7 linked regions of the Homo sapiens genome follow. The protein of the gene in region 5 purifies or fractionates together with the protein of the main gene of each other region. This does not show direct contact. Each region holds a gene or a part of one and is shown on either strand. Other genes may lie near its edges.

Evidence for each region.
Region 1: the proteins of BZW2 (region 5) and P2RX4 purify together in Homo sapiens (co-immunoprecipitation; one large-scale study listed by IntAct). This does not show direct contact.
Region 2: the proteins of BZW2 (region 5) and SCCPDH purify together in Homo sapiens (affinity purification with mass spectrometry; 2 studies listed by BioGRID and IntAct, with this or other methods). This does not show direct contact.
Region 3: the proteins of BZW2 (region 5) and CANT1 purify together in Homo sapiens (affinity purification with mass spectrometry; 2 studies listed by BioGRID and IntAct, with this or other methods). This does not show direct contact.
Region 4: the proteins of BZW2 (region 5) and NT5C3A purify together in Homo sapiens (affinity purification with mass spectrometry; 2 studies listed by BioGRID and IntAct, with this or other methods). This does not show direct contact.
Region 6: the proteins of BZW2 (region 5) and OMA1 purify together in Homo sapiens (affinity purification with mass spectrometry; 2 studies listed by BioGRID and IntAct, with this or other methods). This does not show direct contact.
Region 7: the proteins of BZW2 (region 5) and ABHD12 purify together in Homo sapiens (co-immunoprecipitation; one large-scale study listed by IntAct). This does not show direct contact.

What each region holds. Positions count from the first base shown.
Region 1 is NC_000012.12:121,216,629-121,220,128, reverse strand, and holds part of P2RX4 (P2X purinoceptor 4), read right to left. Parts: intron 3,175-3,500; coding exon of another isoform or gene 3,127-3,174; intron 2,996-3,126; coding exon 2,848-2,995; intron 1-2,847. UniProt on the Homo sapiens protein: ATP-gated nonselective transmembrane cation channel permeable to potassium, sodium and calcium. CTP, but not GTP or UTP, functions as a weak affinity agonist for P2RX4.
Region 2 is NC_000001.11:246,734,409-246,737,908, reverse strand, and holds part of SCCPDH (saccharopine dehydrogenase-like oxidoreductase), read right to left. Parts: intron 1,935-3,500; coding exon 1,854-1,934; intron 1-1,853.
Region 3 is NC_000017.11:79,003,265-79,006,764, forward strand, and holds part of CANT1 (soluble calcium-activated nucleotidase 1), read right to left. Parts: intron 1-3,500.
Region 4 is NC_000007.14:33,052,777-33,056,276, forward strand, and holds part of NT5C3A (cytosolic 5'-nucleotidase 3A), read right to left. Parts: intron 1-3,500. UniProt on the Homo sapiens protein: Nucleotidase which shows specific activity towards cytidine monophosphate (CMP) and 7-methylguanosine monophosphate (m(7)GMP). CMP seems to be the preferred substrate.
Region 5 is NC_000007.14:16,652,681-16,656,180, forward strand, and holds part of BZW2 (eIF5-mimic protein 1), read left to right. Parts: intron 1-3,500. UniProt on the Homo sapiens protein: Translation initiation regulator which represses non-AUG initiated translation and repeat-associated non-AUG (RAN) initiated translation by acting as a competitive inhibitor of eukaryotic translation initiation factor 5 (EIF5) function.
Region 6 is NC_000001.11:58,533,227-58,536,726, forward strand, and holds part of OMA1 (metalloendopeptidase OMA1, mitochondrial precursor), read right to left. Parts: coding exon 3,287-3,500; intron 1,106-3,286; coding exon 932-1,105; intron 835-931; coding exon 727-834; intron 1-726. UniProt on the Homo sapiens protein: Metalloprotease that is part of the quality control system in the inner membrane of mitochondria. Activated in response to various mitochondrial stress, leading to the proteolytic cleavage of target proteins, such as OPA1, UQCC3 and DELE1.
Region 7 is NC_000020.11:25,384,336-25,387,835, forward strand, and holds part of ABHD12 (lysophosphatidylserine lipase ABHD12), read right to left. Parts: intron 1-3,500.

The sequences.
Region 1 (3,500 bases), on a different chromosome or scaffold from region 5:
AACATTCTAGAGAAGACTCGGTCAGGGTCAGCAAGTGACATTTCTCTTTGAAAAGGTTCTGTTTCCTCCTTATATGTATAAAGGTGCCAAATAATTGATTTAGAGTTTCTGGAAAGCAATTTGCTAGGGATGAGACTGAAGAATTGCTGATAATGACCTCCTCATATAAGGAATAAAAGGCAAAGACCCCAAAAGATTCTAGTTGGATCCTCCTCTCATTGGGGGCTGGTGTCCATCCATCTAATCTAATCTATCTATTATCTGTCTATCTATCTATCTATCTATCTATCTATCTATCTAATCTATCCTATATCTATCATCTGTTTTCTATTTATCGATTATCTATCACCTATCTAATCTATCCTATCATCTGTCATCTATCCTATCCCTTTTCTTTCTTTTCTCTTCTCTTTTCTTTCTTTCCCTTTCTTTCTCCTATCCTATCATTTATCTATTCTTTCTTTCTTTCCATCTATCTATCTATCTATCTATCTATCTATCTATCTATCTATCCATCCATCCATCCATCCATCCATCCATCCATCCATCCACCACCCATCCAATCAAGATGGGGTCTCACTATATTGCCCAGGCTGGTCTTGAATCCTGAGCTCAAGTGATCCTCCTGCCTTGGCCTCCAAAAGTGCTGGGACTACAGGCGTAAGCCACTGCGCCTGGCTGGGCCCAGGCATTTTAAAAGGAGATGCCCAAAGCTTTTAGCATTTCACACTCCTGAGGATAACAGTCAGTAGTGGGAGCCATCTTGGGGATCAGGGCAACTCAGAAACCAACCAGTCTGTAGACATCCCCAACCCCACGGTCTGACAAGTGGTGGAAGCTCTAGAAATAGCTGGCGTCCTCCAAAGGCCTAGGGCAAACTATGTTGGGAGACAAGGAGAAGGCCACAGGAGGAGGCGTGAGGATGTGGCATGAGCTGCAGCCTCTCTCCCGCCACCTGTCACGTTCCCAGGTGTTCAATGTACAAACACACTCTGCATTTGGTGTTAGAGAAGGCCGCTCCTACGACTCTCCTGAGTTATACTTGGAACAATCCAGTATGGTCTACTTTTCGTTTCCTATCTCTCCTTCTTTCTCTCTCTTTTAGAGTTGGGGTCTTGCTCTGTTGCCCTAGCTGGAGTGCAGTGGCGTGATCACAGTTCACTTCAGCCTCAAACTCCTGGGCTCAAGTGATCCTTCTGCCTCGGCCTCCAAAAGTGTTGAGATTACAGGCATGAACCACCACATCTGGCCTGTTTCCTATCACTTATCTACTTCAAATTAAGGGTAATTTCAGTCTGGAGATGAGCCAAGGGGCTGCAAATAGATGACTGTGTTCCATCTACAAAGAACACAGACGTCGTGAAAGCTCATGAGGAAAGCCCTGGGGAACTCACACGGCCCCCGCCCAGATCCACCACGGAAGGCTGAGTTGTGGGGTGCTCCTTTCCACCAAGGGACAAAAGCGGGGCTTGTGCCCTTCCTCATCTGCCCAGTAAACACACCGAGCATGACATTCCCAGAGCTCACCGGGACAAGGCTATGCCTGCACAGGAGGCAACCGTCTCTCTGCTGAGACAGGTACATGCTAACAGGACTGCCCCCTCCAGCCAACTGCAAATCCCCTGTTCCACTTGATCTTTTTTTTTGAGACGGAGTCTTGCTCTGTCACCAGGCTGGAGTGCAGTGGCACTATCTCGGCTCACTACAACCTCCGCCTCCCAGGTTCAAGAGATTCTCCTGCCTCAGCCTCCCTAGTAGCTGGGACTACAGGCACCCACCACCACACCCCACTAATTTTTGTATTTTTAGTAGACAGGGTTTCACCATGTTAGCCAGGATGGTCTCAATCTCTTGACCTCATGATACACCGACCTCGGCCTCCCAAAGTGCTGGGATTACAGGCATGAGCCACCGCACCTGGCCCTTCCTCCTGACTTTTATGGCTCATTAGCTCGGTCTCCTCTCTGGGGACCCCACAAGACCCTTCTCTTGAGAAGGCAGGGGGAAGAACACACCTGAAGAAAGAGTTTCTGGAGTTCTTGTTTTCCCTGGCAAGAGCTCTGAGCCAAGAGTTGGCAGCTTATCTCTACTGGTCGCCCTCGGTCCCTTAGCACATAGGCCATCTGGAGGGCTATGTCGGGTTTGACTGTGTGGTGCAGAGCTGTTACCAGGACTAAAGAGTCAATGTTTAACTTGGAGCTTTGCAGATTAACAGCCTGAAGACTAGTATGCAGCAGTAAACAATGTCTTCCCTTCCTTTCGCTCCCGATGGAGTCCTGTGCTGCTGTCTCTGTTTCCTTCTTGTTTGGGTTTTGGTCTCTAATGGTCTCTAATTCTTTTCTTTTTTTTTCTTTTTTTTTTTTTTTATAGAGATGGGGTTTCACCACATTGCCCAGGCTGGTCTCAAACTCCTGGGCTCAAGGTATCTGCCCGCCCCAGCCTCCCAAAGTGCTGGGATTACACACGTGAGCTACTGTGCCCGGCCTAAAGTTTTTACACTGTCTGAAAAGATTTACCTCGTGTATTTGGGACAATAATGCAAACCCAAAATGTGGAAAGGTGATATTTCCACTTGAATTTCTATCAGGATTTAAGACATTTGTTTTCTCATCTTTCAGGGCTTTCAGCCTGCCATGCTTTCAAGCTGAGGAACCACAGCTGCCTGGATACACTCTGTTAGATCCTAAGCTGAAAAGAGATCTGGCTGCACCGTTTTCTTGGACTAAAACAATCATTCTGGGCATTGGTGATGTCAGGACTCAGGCCACGTCAATCATTAATCAAGTGTGCAAAGTCAGTAAAGAGCAAGGTGTCAGTGTTAGACAGAAGACACAGTGGGAGACACACCTGAGCTGGTATCACATAATCCGCCACATCCCAGATCCGGAATCCAAGTTTAGAAGTGTTGGTCACAGCCACGCCCTTGACCTTGGTCGTAACGGAGCTGACCACGGAGTCAGTTTCCTGGTAGCCCTTTTCCCACACAAACACCCACCTATAAAATAAAACAGGCCTCTTAAATTGCCATTAGGATTCAATGGATTTGAATTGATGGGGAAGCTTCTGCTGGCCAGTGGCTGGAAGTACGATGTTGACTAATTACATGACTTTCTACAAGCTACGTACCTTCTAGGGGACTCCATTTCCACTTCTGCCAAATGGGGATGGTAGCACCTAAACCACAGGAGGGTTTGCGGGAAATAAATGAGATGGTGCAGGTAAAGCACTCAGCACACTGATGGCACAGAGAAAACGCTCGATGAATACTGTCTTTATTACATTTGAGCATTTTCTCTTTTTTTTTTTTTGAGACGATGTTTCGCTCTTGTTGCCTAAGCTGGAGTGCAATGGTGTGATCTTGGCTCACTGCAACCTCCGCCTCCCGGGTTCAGGCAATTCTCCTGCCTCAGCTTCCCAAGTAGCTGGGATTACAGGCATGCGCCAACACGCCTGGCTAATTTTGTATTTTTAGTAGAGACGGGGTTTCACCATGTTGGCCA
Region 2 (3,500 bases), on a different chromosome or scaffold from region 5:
TTAGGTTTTGATATTATGGCTGGGCGTGGTGGCTCATGCCTGTAATCCCAGCATTCTGGGAGGCCGATGCAGGTGGATCACTTGAGGCCAGGAGTTCAAGACCAAGCTGGCCAACACGGTGAAACCCTGTCACTACTAAAAATACAAAAATTAGTCAGGTGTGGTGGTGTGCACCTGTACCCCCAGCTACTCAGGAGGTTGAGGCAGGAGAATCGCTTGAACCCAGGTGGCAGAGGTTACAGTGAGCCAAGATCGTAGCACTGCACTCCAGCCTGGGTGAGAGAGAGAGACCCTGTATCAAAAAAAAAGGGGGGGGTTCGATACTACTTTTATGATAGTTTCTAGATGACTTAAAAGCTTTTCACCATTTTCTATGTTCTGGGTTATTTAAAATAACATGGGAATTGTTTTTTGTTTTTGTTTTTTGGAGACAGGGTCTCACTATGTTGCCCAGGCTGGAGTGCAGTGGCATGATCATAGCTCATTGCAGCCTTGACCTCCCAGGCTCAAGTGATATTCCTGTCTCATTCTCCTGAGTAGGTGGGACCACAGGTGTGTGCTACCAACTCCTGGCTAATTTGTTAACTCACCAGCTCAAGTCATCCTCCCACCTAGCCTCCCAAAGTGCTGGGGTAACAGGCGTGAGCCACCTCGCCTGGGCTTTTTTTTTTTTTTAATTTGTTTCCTCCTTTTTGAATCAATTTTTGTAATTTACACTGTCTCAGTATTTTCCAGTATTTTACCAATTGATAAACTGCAAATGCATATTAATATCATATTGGCATGCTGATGATGATAATCAGTAGTTACTACAGAGACACATGAGGTTACCATTTTAAAGGCTGTAGTAGAGCTTAATGCCTGTTAACACATAACTTCCTGTGGTCAGGCAAACCTCAATTGAAGACCTAGTTCTTCTACTTACTAGGTGCATTACTAGGTGCATTACTAGGTGCATTACTGAGTGAGTTACTTAAGCTTCCTAAGCTTTAATTTCCTCATCTACAAAAAATGGAGGAAGATAACTACCCTATAGGTATATTTTTAAAAAGTTACATAAAACACTTAGCACAATGTTGGGCATATGGTAAGCATTCAATAAATGTGAACATTTAAAATGTTTAGGTTGATTTTACACTAGTGAATTTTACCTTTATTTTTCTGTAATGTTATAAAGGTAACTGAATTTTCTTTTTTTTTTTGAGACAGAGTCTCGCTCTCGCTCTGTGGCGCAGGCTGGAGTGCAGTGGAGTGATCTCGGCTCACTGCAAGCTCCACCTCCTAGGTTCACCCCATTCTCCCACCTCAGCCTCCCAAGAAGCTGGGATGACAGGTGCCCGCCACCATGCCCGGCTCACTTTTTGTATTTTTAGTAGACATGGGGTTTCACCGTGTTGGCCAGGATGGTCTCGATCTCCTGACCTCATGATCTGCCCGCCTTGGCCTCCCAAAGTGCTGGGAGTGCAGGTGTGAGCCACCGTGCCCGGCCTAAAGGTACCTGATTTTTAAAAGGGAATTCAAAATGAAAACATGACAGAATTGAGATTCTAAGAATTATGCACAGTCCGCTATTTTAATTGATTCAGTTTAAAGCATGAAGTAGCTATAATAAGCACAGACCTATAAGAAATGATGTTGTAGGGAGGGAAAAAATTCAGAAAACTGAAGCTAAGACCTTACCATCAGCGCTCTCCTTTGAGCTATCAATGGAATACCACACGAATACCATATCTGAATGCTAGAAAGGAGTTGTCGGCTTCTAAATATGTCTGCAAAATTACACTAAATATTTCCACTTCATTAAACCGAAATTTATGTGTTAATTCTACGTTTTTCCTTTTTATTTTTTATACCTGAGGTTCTCCACTGATGTCGATACAACTGGCTCCATTTTCAATACATGCTTTTATTACAGGTTCTCCATAAAACCGATACTAGGGAAACAAAAAGAACAAAGAGGTTATTCTTGCTTGACAAGTTTAAATGAATAAAATGCCATCTAATCCTGGAAGTAAACAGTCCTAGTTATCAAGAAATCAACTGTTAATAAAATAGCCTAAAGATAAATTCAGAAAGTGGCCAGGCACAGTGGCTCACACCTGTAATCCCAGAACTTTGGGAGGCCGAGGCAGGTAGATCACTTGAGGTCAGGAGTTCAAGACCAGCCTGGCCAACATGGTGAAACCCCATCTCGACTAAAAATACAAAAATTAGCCGGGCGTGGTGGCACACACCTGTAATCCCAGCTACTCGGGAGGCTGAGGCAGGAGAATGGTTTGAACCTGGAAGGTGGAGATTACAGTGAGCCAAGATCGTGCCACTGCACTCCAGCCTGGGCGACAGAGTGAGACTCCGTCTCAGAAACAAAAAGATAAACTGAGAAGATACCTGCACAATACCATCTCTCACAGTGTGAATAAATAAAGGCATGATGGAATTACAGAGCAATGTATGCTTACCTCTACCTGAAGACAAAAGGAAAAGTTTCATACAAGTGATTCCCTTGAGTTGAACCCTAAAGAACAAATAAAAATTTTCCAGGAAAAAGAAAAATCCAGATACAGGAAAAAGTAAATGCAGAGGTTAAGAAAAAGGAGCTGTTCCTGTTGCTTGAAGCAGGAATCAAATTCACTTGAGTAGGAAGTAGAAAGAGATGGGTCTGAAAAGGCAGGCTACGGCCACATCAGGAAGGACCACATGTGCCATGCTAACAAGTTTCAACTTTATCCTTTCTAGTTTACTTGGCTTTCCAGAAGAATTTTAAACAGGATAGTGGTATAAGACTTATAGCACAGACGATATACTAAAGATGAGACATACAATACTAAAAAGGTGGAAATGACTGGATTTCCTGACTAGCTGGGCTGGACATGGGGGCCAAGAACCAGTGGTATTATTGGTCAAAATTAAAAACAAACCAACAGGAAGAAGAGAGTTTGCAAAGGATAAGTTTGATACTGAACAGAGCAGATATTCTGAGCCTGTATGATATTAGATTTCCCATATTATCTGTTATTCAAACTCAAGGAATTAAAATACAAATTTTCATATGTAAAAGCTAATACATCAGAATTCAGTCCCATTTCCAAAGAAGCATGACAAATCTTTTCCTTTGTGAAGAAGTAGATTAGAAGCACAAACTCCTCTGCTTTATTCATTCCTGGCAGCAAAAGATGGAACAAGGAAATCGTTTCTTTCTTCCAGCCTTTGAGGAACAAGGGACACTTAAAAGACACAATCGACCTTTACAAATAGGTCAGATGGGCTGCCCTCTTACCTAACTCCAAGACCTCACACCTCTTACTAAGAATGGCGGATAACACTGGAATTACAGGACTGGGAGAAGTGTGTGAAATTCGAGTTCCTACCCTCCCATTAACAAACCACATGAAATTAATGAAGAACTCTACTTCTGAGGCAGTATGGTATCATGGAACAAAGGATTTCAAGGCAGTAAGACCCAAGTTCACACCTGGAATCCATCACCTACTAACTATATG
Region 3 (3,500 bases), on a different chromosome or scaffold from region 5:
GGGCTTCATCTCTCCTTCAGGACCCCAAGGAATTATTTTATTTTGCAAAAAAATTTCAAATCAGATGCCTTTGCCACAGCCCATGCTGGTGTATGAGCTACCACTGGCTGCCGGGGTGCCTGGCTGCCGGCGCCTGCTGCAGGCAAGAGTTTGCATGTTCTTTAAAAAGCTGGGTTCTTTTTCGGGGGTGGGGGGTGGGGGGGCTCTTTTGTTTGTTGCCAGCCAGAAACAACAGAAATGAACCGGCGAGGGTAAGACACAAGATGGACAAAGTCCTTTCCAGAAGGGGCTCGTGTGAGGCTTCTCCCTACACCCCTCAAAGCTTAAGCAGTTTAAATGCTCGCTTTATTGTGAAAAGATTGACAAACCCAGTGCCTGCAGAGTAATGGTTTGATTTTAGATAATCAGCAACAAGAGGACTCAGGGACTACAGCAAAGTCATGGGTTCTGTGGCCAGCCAGGCTCTCCTGTTCAGTGGGGCTGCAAACCAGCTATCTCCCAGACTCAGGGGCCTACAGGGACAGGACCCCTGCTGCTGCCTGGAGAGCACTCACAGGAGCACTCACAGGAGGAATAACCACCTGCAAGGCTTGCAAGGCACCACGGAGGCATCTGTCCATCCCACAGGACACTCCCAGAGCGCAGGGGAGCCACCAGTGAGGGAGCTGGGAGTTAGGGAGCGGGGAGTTAGGGAGTAGGGAGTTGGGGGGGAGTTAGGGAGGGGGGAATTGGGGAGGGGAGTTAGGAAGAGGGGAGTTAGGGAGAGGGGAGTTAGTGAGTGGGGAGTTAGGGAGGGGGAGTTAGGGAGAGGGGAGTTAGGGAGGGGAGTTAGGGAGGGGAGTTAGGGAGAGGGGAGTTAGGGAGAGGAGTTGGGGGGGAGTTAGGGAGGGGTGTTAGGGAGAGGGGGGTTAGGGAGAGGGGAGTTAGGGAGAGGGAGGTTAGGGAGGGGAGTTAGGGAGAGGAGAGTTAGGGAGAGGGGAGCTAGGGAGAGGACAGTTAGGGAGAGGAGTTAGGGAGGGGGGAGTTAGGGAGGGGAGTTAGGGAGAGGGGAGTTAGGGAGAGGGAGGTTAGGGAGGGGAGTTAGGGAGAGGGGGGTTAGGGAGAGGGGGGTTAGGGAGAAGGGAGTTAGGGAGGGGAGTTAGGGAGAGGGGAGTTAGGGAGGGGGGAGTTAGGGAGAGGAGTTAAGGAGAGGGGAGTTAGGGAGGGGAGTTAGGGAGAGGGGAGTTAGGGAGGGGGGAGTTAGGGAGAGGGGGGTTAGGGAGAAGGGAGTTAGGGAGGGGAGTTAGGGAGAGGGGAGTTAGGGAGGGGGGAGTTAGGGAGAGGAGTTAAGGAGAGGGGAGTTAGGGAGGGGAGTTAGGGAGAGGGGAGTTAGGGAGAGGGGAGCTGGGGGGGAGTTATGGAGCAAGGAGTTAGGGAGGGGGGAGTTAGGGAGATGGGAGTTAGGGAGAGGGGGGTTAGGGAGAGGGGAGTTAGGGAGGGGAGTTAGGGAGAAGGGAGTTAGGGAGAGGGGAGCTAGGGAGAGGGGGGTTAGGGAAGGGGGAGTTAGGGAGGGGAGTTAGGGAGGGGAGTTAGGGAGAGGGGATTTAGGGAGGGGGGAGTTAGGGAGAGGAGTTAAGGAGAGGGGAGTTAGGGAGGGGAGTTAGGGAGAGGGGAGCTGGGGGGGAGTTATGGAGCAAGGAGTTAGGGAGGGGGGAGTTAGGGAGATGGGAGTTAGGGAGAGGGGGGTTAGGGAGAGGGGAGTTAGGGAGGGGAGTTAGGGAGAAGGGAGTTAGGGAGAGGGGAGCTAGGGAGAGGGGGGTTAGGGAAGGGGGAGTTAGGGAGGGGAGTTAGGGAGAGGGGGGTTAGGGAGAAGGGAGTTAGGGAGAGGGGATTTAGGGAGGGGGGAGTTAGGGAGAGGAGTTAAGGAGAGGGGAGTTAGGGAAGGGAGTTAGGGAGAGGGGAGTTAGGGAGAAGGGAGTTAGGGAGGGGGGAGTTAGGGAGGTGAGAGTTAAAGAGCGAGGAGTTAGGGAGCGGGGAGTTAGGGAAACTGTGCTTTTCTCTGTGCACACCCAGGAGGCGTCTCCCTGCTGCTGCCCTTTCCCAGGAGAAGGGCTCAGGGGCCACCTACCTCCCGAGGCCATCCCCAGGCCTGCCGCTGCACTCTGAGCAAGGCTATAATGAAGGGAGTGGCGACTCCCTGGACAGCAGACAGCCAAGAGGGTTTGTTTCTCCAGCTTCCTGCAGGAGTGGAATAGGACAGGTGGCAGAACCAGCAGGTTTACTGAGGGCTGCCAGGCTCCTCCCTTTCAGGATCCAGGCAGGGCAGGAAGCCACATCATCCTGTTAAGAGGCCGCCACATCCTAGCCCCCACCTCCTTGGAAGGGACGGGTAGGCAGGTGGCAGGTGCGCCAACCCCTTATCTCTGGAGAAGAGCTACCTTCCTTTCCCTTCCCACACCCAGAGAGCAGGCAGGCAGGCCTCAGAGTGCCCACTGTGTTCACTGCCATGGTAAAGAGCAAACCCCACTGACCTACAGACTCTTCAGCACAGCCAAGGCAGAAGCCAAGGCCTTCACACACTCATGCTAACAGCGCCTGAGAGAACACGGGTGGCGCATCTCAAAGAAACACTTATTAATGCCTGCTATGGGCCAGACTCCTTGAAAACGTTACCTGATTCCTGCTTTGGCACTTGCAAGGCTAACTATTGTACCTGCAAATTCCACGGCAAATCTCCTCGGGGGTGGGCAGTACAAGGAAACCAGAAAGGAAGAAGGTCACAGGGAGTCTGGTTAGGCCATCCTGCCTCCACAGACAGCACGCTCCTTAAAGGTCAAGCTCAGGATCTGACTGACTTCTGCACCTGTCCCCGCCCCTAGTATCCAGCACACGGCAGGCAGCAGGCACCGTCCTGTGGGACAGAAGCCTCACACGGGCCATGGCTCCATTCTCATGCCTCTTCCAGCTTCTGGAGGCACCCACATTCCCTGCCTGGTGGCCCCTCCTCCCCCTCCAAAGCCCGCCCACTGCACTTCCCCAAGGCTCTTGGCCATCATCTCCCTCCGGCTCTTCTGCTTCCCTCTTCTGTTCTTAAGGACCCTGTGATTACACTGGGCTCCCTGGGAAAATCCAGGATCATCTCACTACTTTAAGGCCGGCTGATCAGCAACCTTAATTCCCCTTTGCCATGTAATGTAACATATTCACAGGCTCAGAAGGTAGGACGTGGACATCTCGGGGAGCTGTTCCTCCACCAATCACAGGAGGAAGAGGGGAAAGAGCCTCCAGGTTTTTCCAAGGGCCAGGACCAGTCACTGTCTATGGTGTGGGCGCACAGCTTCAGAACCCTCTACGGTTTGCAGTTACTGCCTTGTAAAGAGGCTGTGTCTGCTTAATTTGTATCATCGATGTTACACCTGGAGGAATTTTAGCCAAAAGGCGACCTTCTCAGTTGAAAGGCACATTCCAAATGGCACCACACATCTGGGAAGGTGTCCTTTTCCAGAGTGTGTGAAAATAAC
Region 4 (3,500 bases), about 16 Mb from region 5:
TTAGCACACATCACAATCACCTGCAGGCTTGTTAAAACAGACTGCTGGGTCCAACCTCAAAGTTTCTGATTGTTTGTCTGGAGTAGGACTAGATAACTCGCATATATAACAAGTTCCTGCTCAATGTTGATGCCATGGTCTGGGACCACTCTTTGAGTACCATTGGTGTAAAACACTAGTATATGGGATCCTGTATTTCAAAATAAGGTTTCATCCTTCTCTAGTTGTCATGGTTTATATAACCAGCTCTTAGGAGCCTTAGCCAGGTTGTAAAAAATTGCTGTATTGTAGGAAAAAATGCCCACCTCTTGCCCGCCAATCAATGGCTAGTATTGGTAACCGAGGTGAAGAAAGTAAAAGGATCTAAAGATGTAATGAGCCTGGGCAACATAACAAGACACTGTCTGTTTTTGTTTTTGTTTTTTTTCGAGACAGAGTCTTGCTCTGTTGCCCAGAGCTGGAGTGCAATGGTGTAATTTTGGCTCACGGCAACCTCTGCCTCCCGGGTTCAAGTAATTCTCCTGCCACAGCCTCCTGAGTAGCTGGGATTACAGGTTTGTGCCACCACGCCTGGCTAATTTTTGTATTTTTAGTAGAGACAGGGTTTCACCATGTTGGCCAGGCTGCTCCAGAACTCCTGACCTCAAGATCTGCCCACCTTGGCCTCCCAAAGTGCTGGGATTACAGGCGTGAGCCACCGTGCCCAGCCACAAGACCCTGTCTCTAAAAATAAAATTAGTCAGGCATGGTGGCACATGTCTGTAATCCCAGCTACTTGGGAGGCTGAGGGGGGAAGACGGTTTGAGCCCAGGAGGTCGAGGTTGCAATGAGCTATGATTGTACCACTGCACTCCAGCCTGGCTCACAGACTGTGATCCCATTTCTTAAAATAAATAAATAAATGACTGAAAGAAAGAAAGAAAGAAGTAATGGCTTTTAGTCAGAAAAAAATTTGTGAATAAATTTAAAATTAAGTATCCAGTTCAAAGGGGACTCCATCTGTTAGGTAAATGAATTCACAACAAAAGGAAAGAGAAAAAAAATTGTAAAGCTAAAACTGTTTCAGGAAGGAGCTGTTTCTAGCTAATATACAAGTAGCTCACTAGATAAGAGAACAACTTTGCATTAAAGTTGAAAATGTGGTTAACTTGTGGCATATGGATAATCTACAGGAAACCTGACAAACATGATTTGAAAGGACAAAGTCATACATGCCTGGTACAAACATTTCCACGTTTACAAATTTGGGAATTCAAGATCATCTTGAATATAGCCTTTGATAATGTTGAGTTTAATGGGCTGGGCATGGTGGCACATGTCTGTAATCCCAGCACTTTGGGAGGTAGAGGTAGGAGGATCGCTTAAGCCAGGAGTTTGAGACCAGGTGGGCAACATGGCAAAACCCCATCTCTACAAAAAATACAAAAATAAGCCAGGCATGGTGGCATGCACCTGTAGTCCCAGCTACCTGGGAGGCTGAAGTAGGAGGATCACTTGAGTCAAGCAGGTCAAAGCTGCAGTGAGCCATGATGGTGCCACTGCACTCCAGCCTGGGTGGCAGAGTAAGACCCTGCCTCAAAAAAAAAAAAAAAGAATTTAATGTATTTCTCTGTTTTTCAAACTGGAACAATCATGATTTTTATCCTTCAAACATCACCACAGCCATGAATCATTATGCAATGTCATTTCCTGTTTCTTTATCACATAGCCTTTTGTTGCTATGTCTCACAACCTTACACAGGTTGAGAGTATCCTTTACCCAAACTGCTTGGGACCAGATTTCGGGTATTTTGGGATTTTGGAATATTTGCACATACATTATATCTTGGGGATGGTGCCCAAGTTTAAATATGAAATTCATTTATGTTTCACATCTACCTTATATACATGGCCTAAAAGTAATTTTATAAAATATTTTACACAATTTTGTGGCTAAAACAAATTTGTGTACTCTTAACCATCAGAAAGCAAAGGTGTCAATATCTCAGCCACTTGTGTGGCATCATGTCAGCGTTCAAAAAGCTTCAGATTTTGAAGAGTTTTGGATTTCAGATTTTCAGATTAGGGATGCTCAATCTGCATTCATTTTGGAGTACTGTTAGGTCTATAGTTTTGAAGCTAGTTGTGACACATAATTGGGAGATTAGCTTCCACATCTCACTAGGACATACAAAGGAGGTGGCTATGTGTTGAGAGCTACTTAAAATCTAGATATTTCAAGTGTGAATGAATATATCTTTACTCGGGGTAAACAAAAGATACATGCTATCGGGCATGGTGGCTCACACCTGTAATCCCAGCATTTTGGGAGGCCAAGGCGGGCGGATCACCTGAGGTCAGGAGTTCAAGACCAGCCTGGCAAATATGGAGAAACCTCATCTCTCCTAAAAATACAAAAATTAGCTGGGCGTGGTGGTGCCTGTCTATAGTCCCAGCTACTCGGGAGACTGAGGCATGAGAATTGCTTGAACCTGGGAGGCAGAGGTTGCAGTGAGCTGAGATCATGCTACTGCGCTCCAGCACAAAGCGAGACTTGGTGTCGGAAAAAAAAAAAAAGAAGACAGAAGCTGTTCTGAGTTTGTGTTCTCTACTGCTGTATTATAAGTAACCAATTAATGGACTCTCTCCCTTTCTTTCTTACTAATAATATCTCATTTTTGTTGGAAGGTGGCAAATGTGCTCAATCAGAAAACAATTCTTCAACTTCACTTACATAAGGGTAGCCATATAACCTTGTTCTCTCCAATTATCTGTAAGCAGAAAATTCAGCTTGACTGAAATAGGTATTTTCTTCCCTGATTCCACCTTTCTGCTGCCTGAAACATGGACGCATTGGCCATGACTGGAACGACCATCTCACGACCATGAAGAAAAGACAAGGGAAATGTCAAAGACCTATGCCTTGGTATCCTTATGGCCCTAATTAACACAAGCAACTGCCTGTTTTTTGGAATTGTCATTCCATTAGAAAAATAAAATTTACTGTTTACTGAAGCCACTGTTTTGGGGTCTCTCTTTCTCTTAGTCAAGTGCAACTAATTTTTAAAGAGACCAGCTAGTCAGGTGGCTCATGCCTGCAATCCCAGCACTTTGGAAGGCTGAGGTGGGAAGATTGCTTGAGCCCAGGATTTTGAGACCAGCCTGGGCAACACAGCAAAGTCTTGTCTCTACAGAAAACAAAAAATTAGCCAGGCATAATGGCTCATGCCTATATTCCCAGCTACCTGGGAGGCTGAGGCAGGAGGAATACTTGAGCTCAGGAGTTTGAGGCTACAGTGAGCTATCATCATGTCATTGCATTCCAGCCCAGGCAACAGAATGAGACCTTGTCTCAAAAATAAATAAGACTAAAAGAAAAGCACCCATTCCAACCCTCAAGGAACATAAATAATAATAAACAATATGAGACACTGTATAAATTGCTAAATTATGAGAAATCATCAGGAAATGCCAAAGGAATTCAGAGAAAATGTTTTACAAAACAAATCAAGAATTCAAAA
Region 5 (3,500 bases):
TGCCTGGCTAATTTTTGTATTTTTAGTACAGACGGGGTTTCACCATGTTGGCCAGGCTGGTTTCGAACACCTGACCTCAGGTGATTCGCCCGCCTTGGCTTCCCAAAGTGCTGGGATTACAGGCATGAGCCACCATACCTGGCTTAAACCTTTTTAAAATGTATGATTCAGAGAGCTTGTAGCTCTGTACTAGTTCTTTTTTATTTCCTTTAATTCAATTTTGTATGGTCCACTTCTGTAAAGTTGTGTTGGGGAATCCAGTCCCATGTCATCAGCGTGCCCTAGACTAGGCTTGGCATTTCTATCCAGTTCATGCTCTCATTATGTAATAAGCATGCATATGGAAAGTAACTTTGTGTGTGTGTGTGTGTGTGTGTAGCCCTTCAAATAAAGCTTCACCTGCTAGACAGGCTTGGGCAGGTCCCCTTCTGGGAGGATGGGAGTTTCTTGGTTGAGAGAACTAGTAAGTGAGCCAATATTTGGACTCATGCCCACCACCACCTTTGAGCTTCCTGAAGGTCCACTATTACGATTTTTAAGCAATTGCTCCAAAACAGAATTCTCTCACTGTCTACCAGTCTAGGCCTTACTTTTCTTTTTATTTCTTTTTTTTCTGAAGATTTTATTTTCCTCTTTTCCATGATTAAAAATCCTCTGAAGAGAGGCAAACACTTCAACACTCTTTTACTTTAATAACTTGTCTTCTGACTTCCCACTGGAGTAATAGTCACCAACACTCCCATCAGTTTTGTGTCTGTCTTAAACTAACTTGCTCTCTGGCATTGCCACTCCACTTCTTGCTGATTTTCATCTCCTGGTTCTCCTCACCTCAGTTAGCAAGGCCAGTGTTGTGTGTGCTGTCCATAGCTCCTTTCCTCTAGGTGGAAAGTAAATCTCATATAAAATCATCTTTCTCCTCTACTATGTAAAGCTCAACATGTATTTAGGTATCTTCCAGTGAAAAAGCACTTTTCTGGAGGAAGGAACATTGGAGATGAGAATACTCATTAATAATAAATATTACTTTTGTCTTCAGTGGAGGTGAAAATCTCGAATGCATAGGCATTTTCTAAAAGGTTACATAGGATGATGTTAAAGGGTTTAAATTATTATCATCTCCATGGAGTGGGGCTAGGATATAAGGTCAAGAGTGAAAGATTGGGAAGAGCACTACCCTTCTGTACTGTGTTGGGGTTTTTTGTTTGTTTGATTTTGTTTTGTTTTTGCCATCAGTGTGTTATTACTTTAAAGTTTTAAATCACTAGTTAAAATAATATAGAGACTGGCTGGGCATGGTGACTCATGCCTGTAATCCCATCGCTTTGGGTGGCCAAGGTGGGCAGATCACTTGAGGCCAGGAGTTCGAGACCAGCCTGGCCAACATGGCAAAACCCCATCTCTACAAAAAAAAAAAAAAAAAAAAAAAAAAAATACAAAAATTAATTACTTGGGAGACTGAGGCACGAGAATCCAAGGGAGGCAGAGTTTGCAGTGAGCTGAGATTGTGCCACTACACTCCAGCCTGGGTGACAGAGTAAGACTCTGTCTCAAAAAGTAATAATAATAATATAGAGACCATCTTGCTTTTTTCTAAGCTTAAAATTATAATATTATTAACAAATTTCAAGGACATTTCCTTCTCTATAAGAGTTTCTGCTTTTCCTAAAGTGATGCAATGGAACAGATGACTTTTAAAATAAAGATTCAGAGAATATCACTGAATCAAGTTATATAACTCCAAGTCCAAATGCAAATCATTTTTAAATTGTATTTTAGCATAATATGAGAAAAGATGGTAGAATTTAATTTTAATTTTTTTCTGTATATAACCCCCCCCCCCCAAAAAAAAACGGATGATATTTATTTATTTATGAGACGGAGTCTTGCTCTGTCAGCCAGGCTGTGATACAGTGGCATGATCTTGGCTCACTGCAACCTCTGCCTCCAGGGTTCAAGTGATTCTCATGCCTCAGCCTCCCAAGTAGCTGGGGTTACAGGCGTGCAACACCATGCCTGGCTAATTGTTTTTTTTTTTTTTAGTGGATACACGGTTTCACCATGTTGCCCAGGCTTGTCTCAAACTCCTGACCTCAGGTGATCCGCCTGCCTCAGCCTCCCAAAGTGCTGGGATTACAGGCATAAGCCACCGTGCCCAGCCTGTATACTATACTGTGTTTAAGTGTGAACAGTGGTCATTACTGAAAGTTAGACTGATAGATTTTTTCTAATTTTTCCTTAAATATTCTATAATATACATGATGAGCTGACCTTATAATCAGTGATTTTTAAAGGTTACCTCTCACTTTCAAATAAAGATGCTGTTGTTTCTCAGCTTAATCACCTACTTTTTTGCTTCTGTTCAGTATTTTGTCATAAAAACCTGGTTGGACACACCAGATAGCTTCAAAGTGGCCACCTACTTTTTTCAATGGATTAGACTCTGAATGATCTCTGGCGACTTTCTAAAATTAAATCCTCTATCAAACAAGGAAATTTCTCATCATTGAGTATAGTCAAAAGAATGATCTGTAGACTCCAGAGGAAATTCTAAAAAAAGTTTCATAAATCTATTAATTAAAAGGGGTTTTGTTTAATGGAAGCATTATTAGTTCATAGTTTTTCTTTATTGAAGGAAGAAATTACTTTGATGGGTAAATGCTGGAAAATGTTTTTTTAAATTACTTAAGTTACTATGTAACATTTTTGTTTTTAACTGACATATAGTAATTTTTCATATGTGGGGTACAGTGTGGTGTTTCCATATACATATACATTGTGTAATAATTAAATCAGGGTGATTAGCATATTCATTACATTGAACACTCATCATTTCTTTCTGGTAAGAACAATCAAAATCCTTTCTTCTAGCTCTTTTGTAGTATATGATACATTATTGTTAACTATAATAACTCTATTGTGCAATAGAACACTAGAGCTTATTCTTCCTAACTGTAACTCTGTACCTGTTCACCAATCTTTCCCCATCCCCACCTCACTCCTATTCTCCTGTCTCCAGGAAACTACTATTCTACTCTCTACTTCTGTGATACCAACTTTTTTAGATTCTACATGAGTGAGATCATATGATATTTGCCTCCCAAAGTGCTGGGATTACAGATCGGAGCCACCATGCCATGCCCTAAAATACATATGGCTTCCTGTGTTTGCCATTGCTCCAGGGTTCTATGTGTACATAATCAGTTTTATTTCTTAATCATTTGAGAGTAGGTTGCATACACTTTCTGCCTTTATCTCTTATTTCTTCAGTATTTATTCTGTAAAAATAAGATACTTTTCTTACAGAACCACAGTGCAAAAAAAAATTCAGTAAATTTTAACATAGATACCATAATTTTATCTTTATACTCCAACTTCTTAGGTTGTCTCAATAGTCATATATATGTGTGTGTGTGTGTATGTATATATACATATATATGTGTGTATATATATAAATGACTATATATATATATACATAAATATTTTTTCCCAGTACAGCATTC
Region 6 (3,500 bases), on a different chromosome or scaffold from region 5:
CTATAAGAAAAGCGCTGCTAAAAACCAGGTAACTGTAGTGAAAGGAAGAAACACTGGACTAACATACAGAAGACCCACGTTAAAGTCCCAGTTCGGTTACTTTGTCAGGTTAGTCATGTTACTGTTTTTCTAAACATTAGTTTTCTCTTATATAAAATAGTAATAATAAATACATACCTCATTGGGTATTAAAATTATGAATGGGAAGCCACATATACTAAAAAGCTCAGTAAACTGTAAAATGGCAAGGTATTGTTATTACTCTGTATTAATTACACATGACACATCATTCTAGACATTTTCAAAGATGCTCCAAGCTATCCTCTGAGAATGAATAAAAAAGAAAGATGATTTACCCACTTAAATAGTAATATCACTTCCCTACAATTAATTTTCTGACTAGATTACAAGTATATTAATAATTATAGAAAGTTTAAAATTTAATTTGAAATAATTAGGGGTTGAGAATAATTACGTTTTAGCAAAAGAGACAGGTGATAAAAATAGTATTTAAGAAAAATATTATTCAGTATCAAATACTAAAGACCATAAAAATTCTCAAAATTAGCCAATCACGTTTTTTTCAGGTAGCAGATTAAGGCAATTACCCAAAACTAAAAGTCTATCATTTTTAAAAAACCTGAAAAAAATCAGTTCTTTAAAAGATTTAACTTGTTAACTTCAAAGCAGTTTTTCCAAACCTGAACATTCATTTTAGGTACTTACAGCATGCCCAAGTACTGCATGTGCTATTTCATGGCCCAGAAGGAAAGAAAGTTGATGAATATCGGTTACACTATTTAAAAATCCAGTGAAAACAAACATTTGTCCATTCTGCACCACAAAGAAAATAATGTAAGCAATTAGAACATCATAAAAAATAAGGACAATAAATTTAACAATTACAATGCGTTTGAGAACATTTACTTACTGGAAGCACGAAGGCATTAATAATTGGGGAATCAACCACATGAATAACCCAATTGATCTGAGAGATCCCTGGAACATCTTTATTGCATTCAATTAGATGACAAAGCACTTCTTTAACAGCCAGGTATCGGGCATCTTTCTCAGTTAGCATATCATTTTTAAATTCTTCCATCCACTGAAAGATTAAAAATTACTTCTTATTTTAAAAGAGCACTACAAAATGCTTACTCTGCTTCATGGAAAGTTATATGGCTACTTATTATTGAACATTTTAAGTTTTAATTATATAAAAATCTGCATATATTAAGCACTGAAATTTCTCAAATCTGAATTATTCATGCAAAGACAATGTGGTTTCTTACAAAGGAATAAATTCTAATACTAAGTTTTTTTATGAATAGATTGACATCAAAATTTCATTCTTTTCGATTAAACTACAAACGAATACTTAAGTATTATTTCTACTTTCCTAAACATTTTAGAAAACACTGCCTAGGCCAGGGCAAGATGGCTCACGCCTGTAATCCCAGAACTAGGGGAGGCCAAGGCAGGAGGATCACCTCAGCTCAGAAGTTCAAGACCAGCCTGGGCAACATGGTGAAACCCCGTCTCTACCGAAAACACAAAAAATTAGCCAGGCGTGGTGGCATGCACCTGTGTTCCCAGCTACATGGGAGGCTGAAGTGGGAGGATCGCTTGAGTCTAGGAGGTGGAGGTTGCAGTGAGCTGAGATCTCGCCACTGCACTCCAACACCAACCTGGGTGACAGAGGGAGATCCCATCTCAAAAAGAAAAGAAAAGGAGAGCCTGGAGAACTTAAGATTTCATCTAAGTAAAATACAAAAGAAAATTAAATTCACAATGCATTGAACAGAAAAACACCCTATACCTAATAAGAAAGTTAAACTACCAAAATAGACATTTCATTAATTTTAAGGTGTTTTACTCACAGATTGAAAGGAAATTACTGAATTCTCAGAACTAATGAGCATTATCACTGTCTCTAAAAGATGCTGATTAAGACTAGCCACCACAGAAGATACTTTTTCTGAAGTTATATTCATGAGAGCTCTTTCAAGTGTACTGAGAAAATTAAAAATGTTCTGAAATATTACTTTAACTTTCATAAAGTGTATGCTTTTTTTCACTTAAGAATCAACAAGCGGCTGGGCATGGTGGCTCATGCCTGTAATCCCAGCACTTTAGGAGGTGGGCAGATCACGAGGTCAGGAGATCAAGACCATCCTGGCCAACACGGATGAAACCCCATCTCTACTAAAAATACAAAAATTGGCCAGGCGTGGTGGCGCACGCCTGTAGTCCCAGCTACTCGGGAGGCTGAGGCAGGAGAATAATTTGAACCTGTAAGGTGGAGGTTGCAGTGAGCCAAGATGGCACCACTGCAGTACAGCCTGGGTGACAGAGCAAGTCTCTGTCTCAAAAAAAAAAAAAAAAAAAAGATTCAGCCATGCCAAAGCTGTCAAGTGAGGCTACTGGACATGAATTCGAAAAATATTAATTGAGCCACAGGGCACATAACATGTGTATGTGCTATGAACTGGAGAGAAAATGACCTCTGTCCCTAAGAAACTCACTAGGGTACAAAATGTTTAACTACCTGAGTTACTATACTTTCCAAAGAGGTAAGACTTCTAAATTATAACTTAAATTTGGATTCAAAAAATATAATAAATTGCTAAAACTGATGTTTGGGAAAAAAATCTTATATTACTTGATTTTCAAGGTATAAGAATTCTGACTATAAATCTATTTATTCAATAAATATATACTAAGCTCTACTCTTACATACTGTGTTAGTATTTAAAACCATAAACAAAACAGGTAAGATCCCTGCCCCCATGAAGCTTAGTCTAACAAGAAAGACAATCAAAAAAATAATTATGCAAATAATTATGTTACTCTCATGAGTGCTTTGAAGGAAAAGTACAGTATGCAGAGAAAAAAAGCCTAGGAGACCTAACCCCAGTAAAGCCAAGCAATGGGCGCAACTACAAATGAGCTGGTTCATAATTCAGTCGGTATGAAGGATACCTCCTAGGGCCTGATCCAGTCACCCTGCCTAACCCAGTCTGGATAATCAAGGAAGGTTTTCCTGAGAAAAGTGACATTTAAGGTGAAATGTGCTGAGCAGGAGTTAGCTGGGTGAATGCTAGGAAAAGCAATGTAGGCAGTAGGAATACTAAGTGTGAAAGGTCTGAGGCCTTCGGGAAAAAAAAATGCTAATTTCATATCAAAGACTAAAATTAAAAAACAACATATCTTTCACATTTAAGATACTTTCCTACTTTGAGTGTTATATTAAGCAGTCTAATTAAAAACAACTCTTACTACTTACTGCTTCATATTCCAGTTCCGATAAAAGTCTGAACTGTTCTTTCCCCAATAATAGTAGCTTGCTCCTTCCTGTGATTGGACTTACTTCCAGGTGAGTAAAATAAAACACCACAAAGAGCAATCCAAAACTACTCAAACCAAGGAATAGCTTCCATTTATTCTTCCTTATATTTTCTTTAACTACTTCCTTCTTGTTAGGAGGAAGTGCCTGCCAC
Region 7 (3,500 bases), on a different chromosome or scaffold from region 5:
TTTTTTTTAACCTCCAAAATTGTTCTCATCTGAGTTACTTACCAATGTTAAAAAAGTTGGCAATACTACACACACACACACAAGCACACACACTAAGACAAAAAAAAAACTATATAAACAAACAAAAGGCCGGGTGCACTGGCTCATGCCTGTAATCCCAGCACTTTGGGAGGCTTAGGCGGGTGGATCACTTGAGCTCAGGAGTTCAAGTCCAGCCTGGGCAACATGGCAAAACTCTGTCTCTACAAAAAATACAAAAATTAGCTAGGCATGGTGGTGGGTGCCTGTAGTCCCAGCTACTTGTAAGGCTGAGGTGCGAAGACCATTTGACCCTGAGAGGCAGAGGCTGCAGTGAGCCATGACTGCACTGCAGCACTCCAGTCCGGGTGTAGAGCCAAACCCGATCTCAAACACAAAACAAAACAAACTAAAAAAAACACCAGCTAGTCTTTTCCAGAAAGACTGGACAATCTGGCCACTCTGGGACCACATTCCTGCCAGGCAGCAACAGGACAGGGTGTGGTAGCTGCTGTCCCCTTCAGAAAGAACCTGTTCTCTCCACTTCTCAGCATCCCCCAGAACTAAAAAGAGATATTTTCTTTGATGGAGCACAAAACATGTGTGTGTGTGTATGTGTGTGTGTATATATATTTCCCCACTTCAGTGTATGTATGGATATTAGATATATTACTGACTAGCCTAAATCAGGAGGAAAAAGCAGGCCAGGCGCGGTGGCTCACGCCTGTAATCCCAACACTTTGGGAGGCCAAGGCGGGTGGAACATCTGAGGTTGGGAGTTTGAGACCAGCCTGACCAACATGGAGAAACCCTGTCTCTACTAAAAATACAAAATTAGCTGGGTGTGGTGGCACATACCTGTAATCCCAGCTACTCGGGAGGCGGAGGCAGGAAAATCGCTTGAAACTGGGAGGCGGAGGTTGCAATGAGCCAAGATCATGCCATTGCACTCCAACCTGGACAACAAGAGTGAGACTCAAAAAAAAAAAAAAAAAAAAAAAAGAGGAAAACGGAGGAAAAACCCTAATTACAAAAAACAGGGAAGAAAACTAGGGAAATGGCCATAGCTACAGAGGAGAAAAGGTGAATTAAATTGGTAATTTTATAAGAATACATAAACCACCAAAACTGAAACCAGGACATAGCAAATTCTAAACAGACGTAGAAGACACTGTAGTAGTTACCGAAGTGCTATATTCTGAAACAGCACTGGCTAGGGTGGTGGCTCATGCCTATAATCCCAATACTTTGGGGGACAGAGGTGGAAGGACTGCTTGAGAGAGAAGTTCAAGACCAGCCTAGGCAACGTGGCAAGACCTGCCTGTACCAAAAAATTTAAATAAATAAATAAATAAATAAATAGAAAGGCACCAGGCTTAGACAGTTTTACAAGAGAATTTCTACCAAATTTTAAACAAATAATTTAAAAAATTCTTAAGCTGGCTAAAAGTTTAGAATAAAATGGCCGGGTGCGGTGGCTGACACCTGTAATCCCAGCACTTTCGGAGTCCAAGGCAGGCGGATCACGAGGTCAGGAGATTGAGACCATCCTGGCTAACACGGTGAAACCCCGTCTCTACTAAAAAAAATACAAAAAATTAGCCAGGTGTGTTGGTGGGCACCTGTAGTCCCAGCTACTTGGGAGGCTGAGGCAGGAGAATGGCGTGAACCCGGGAGGCAAAGCTTGCAGTGAGCCAAGATCGCGCCACTGCACTCCAGCCTGGGTGATGCAGCGAGACTCCGTCTCAAAAAAATAATAATAATAATAATAAAAATAAAAGTTTAGAATAAAATGTTATGTAAGAAACTTTTTACAAAGCTATAGAAAACACTAAAACAACTTGATAAAGGTTGCATAAGAGAAAATTACAGACTATTCTCACAAATGATGTAAAATTTCTTTTTCTTTCTTTTTTTTTTTTTGAGATGGAGTCTTGCTCTGTCGCCCAGGCTGGAGTGCAGTGGTGCAATCTGGGCTCGCTGCAAGCTCCACCTCCCGGATTCATGCCATTCTCCTACCTCAGCCTCCTGAGTAGCTGGGACTACAGGCGCCCGCCACCACGCCTGGCTAATTTTTTTTGTATTTTTTAGTAGAGACGGGGTTTCACCCGTCAGCCAGGATGGTCTCGATCTCCTGACCTCGTGATCAGCCTGCCTCGGCCTCCCAAAGTGCTGGGATTACAGGCGTGAGCCACCGAGCCCGGCCTCATGATGTAAAATTTCAAAATAAAATATTAATAAATAGGCCAGGTGCGGTGGCTCACGCCTTATAATCCCAGCATTTTGGGAGGCTGAGGCAGGCAGATTATCTGAGGTCAGTAGGTCGAGTCCAGCCTGGTCAACATGGCAAAATCCCGTCTCCATTAAAAATACAAAAATTAGCCGGGCATGGTGGCAGGTGCCTGTAATCCCAGCTACCCGGGAGGCTGAGGCCAGAGAATTGCTTGAACCTGGGAGGCAGAAGTTGCAGTGACCCGAGATCGTGCCACTGCACTCCAGCCTGGGCAACAGAGTGAAACCCCGCCTCAAAAAATAAAAATAAAAAATAAATGAATAAATAGAATCTGGCTATACAATAAGAGAGTTTATCCCAGGAATACAATGATGATTCAATAATATAAATCCATTACTATAACTCATTATGTTAACAGATAAAAGAAGAAAATCTCTATGATCATTCCACAGATGTACACTGGCATTTGAGAAAACTCAATCACCATTTTTTATTTTAAAAACATCAGTGAGGGAGCAGGAACAAAAACAAAAAGCTCCCCACAACATTAGCAACACACCCCAGCATGGCACTTAAATGGCAAAAACACTAACAGCATTCTCATTAAAGTCAGGAATGAAACAAGTTACTCAGTGTCATCCCTATTATTTAACTTTGTTCTAGAAATACAATGCAATCAGAAAAGAAAAAGAGGTCAGACATGGTGGCTCACACCTGTAATCCCAACACTTTGGGAGGCCGTGACAGGGAGATCACTTGAAGTCACGAGTTGGAGACCAGTCTGGCCAACATGGTGAAACCCCATCTCTACAAAAAATACAAAAATTAGCCATGTGTGGTGGCACATGCCTGTAATCCCACCTTCTCGGGAGGCTGAGGCAGGAGAATTTAGGCCTGGCACGGTATTTCATACCTAACACTTTGGGAGGCCAGGAAGAAGGATCGCTTGAAGCCAGAAATTCAAGACCAGCCTGGGGGCAACATAGTGAGACTTCATCTCTATTAAAAAAAAAAAAAAAAAATTAACCAGGAGTGGTGGCATACACCCAGCATCGATATGGGAGGATCGCCTGAGCCCAGGAGGTCTGGGCTGCAGTGGGCCATGATCATGCCACTGTGCTCCAGCCTGGGTGACGGAACTTTCTTAAAAAAAAAATTGTTTAAAAATATTCCAGGCCGGGCGCTGTGGCTCACGCCTGTAATCCCAGCAATTTGGGAGGCCGAGGTGGGTGGATCACGAGGTCACGAG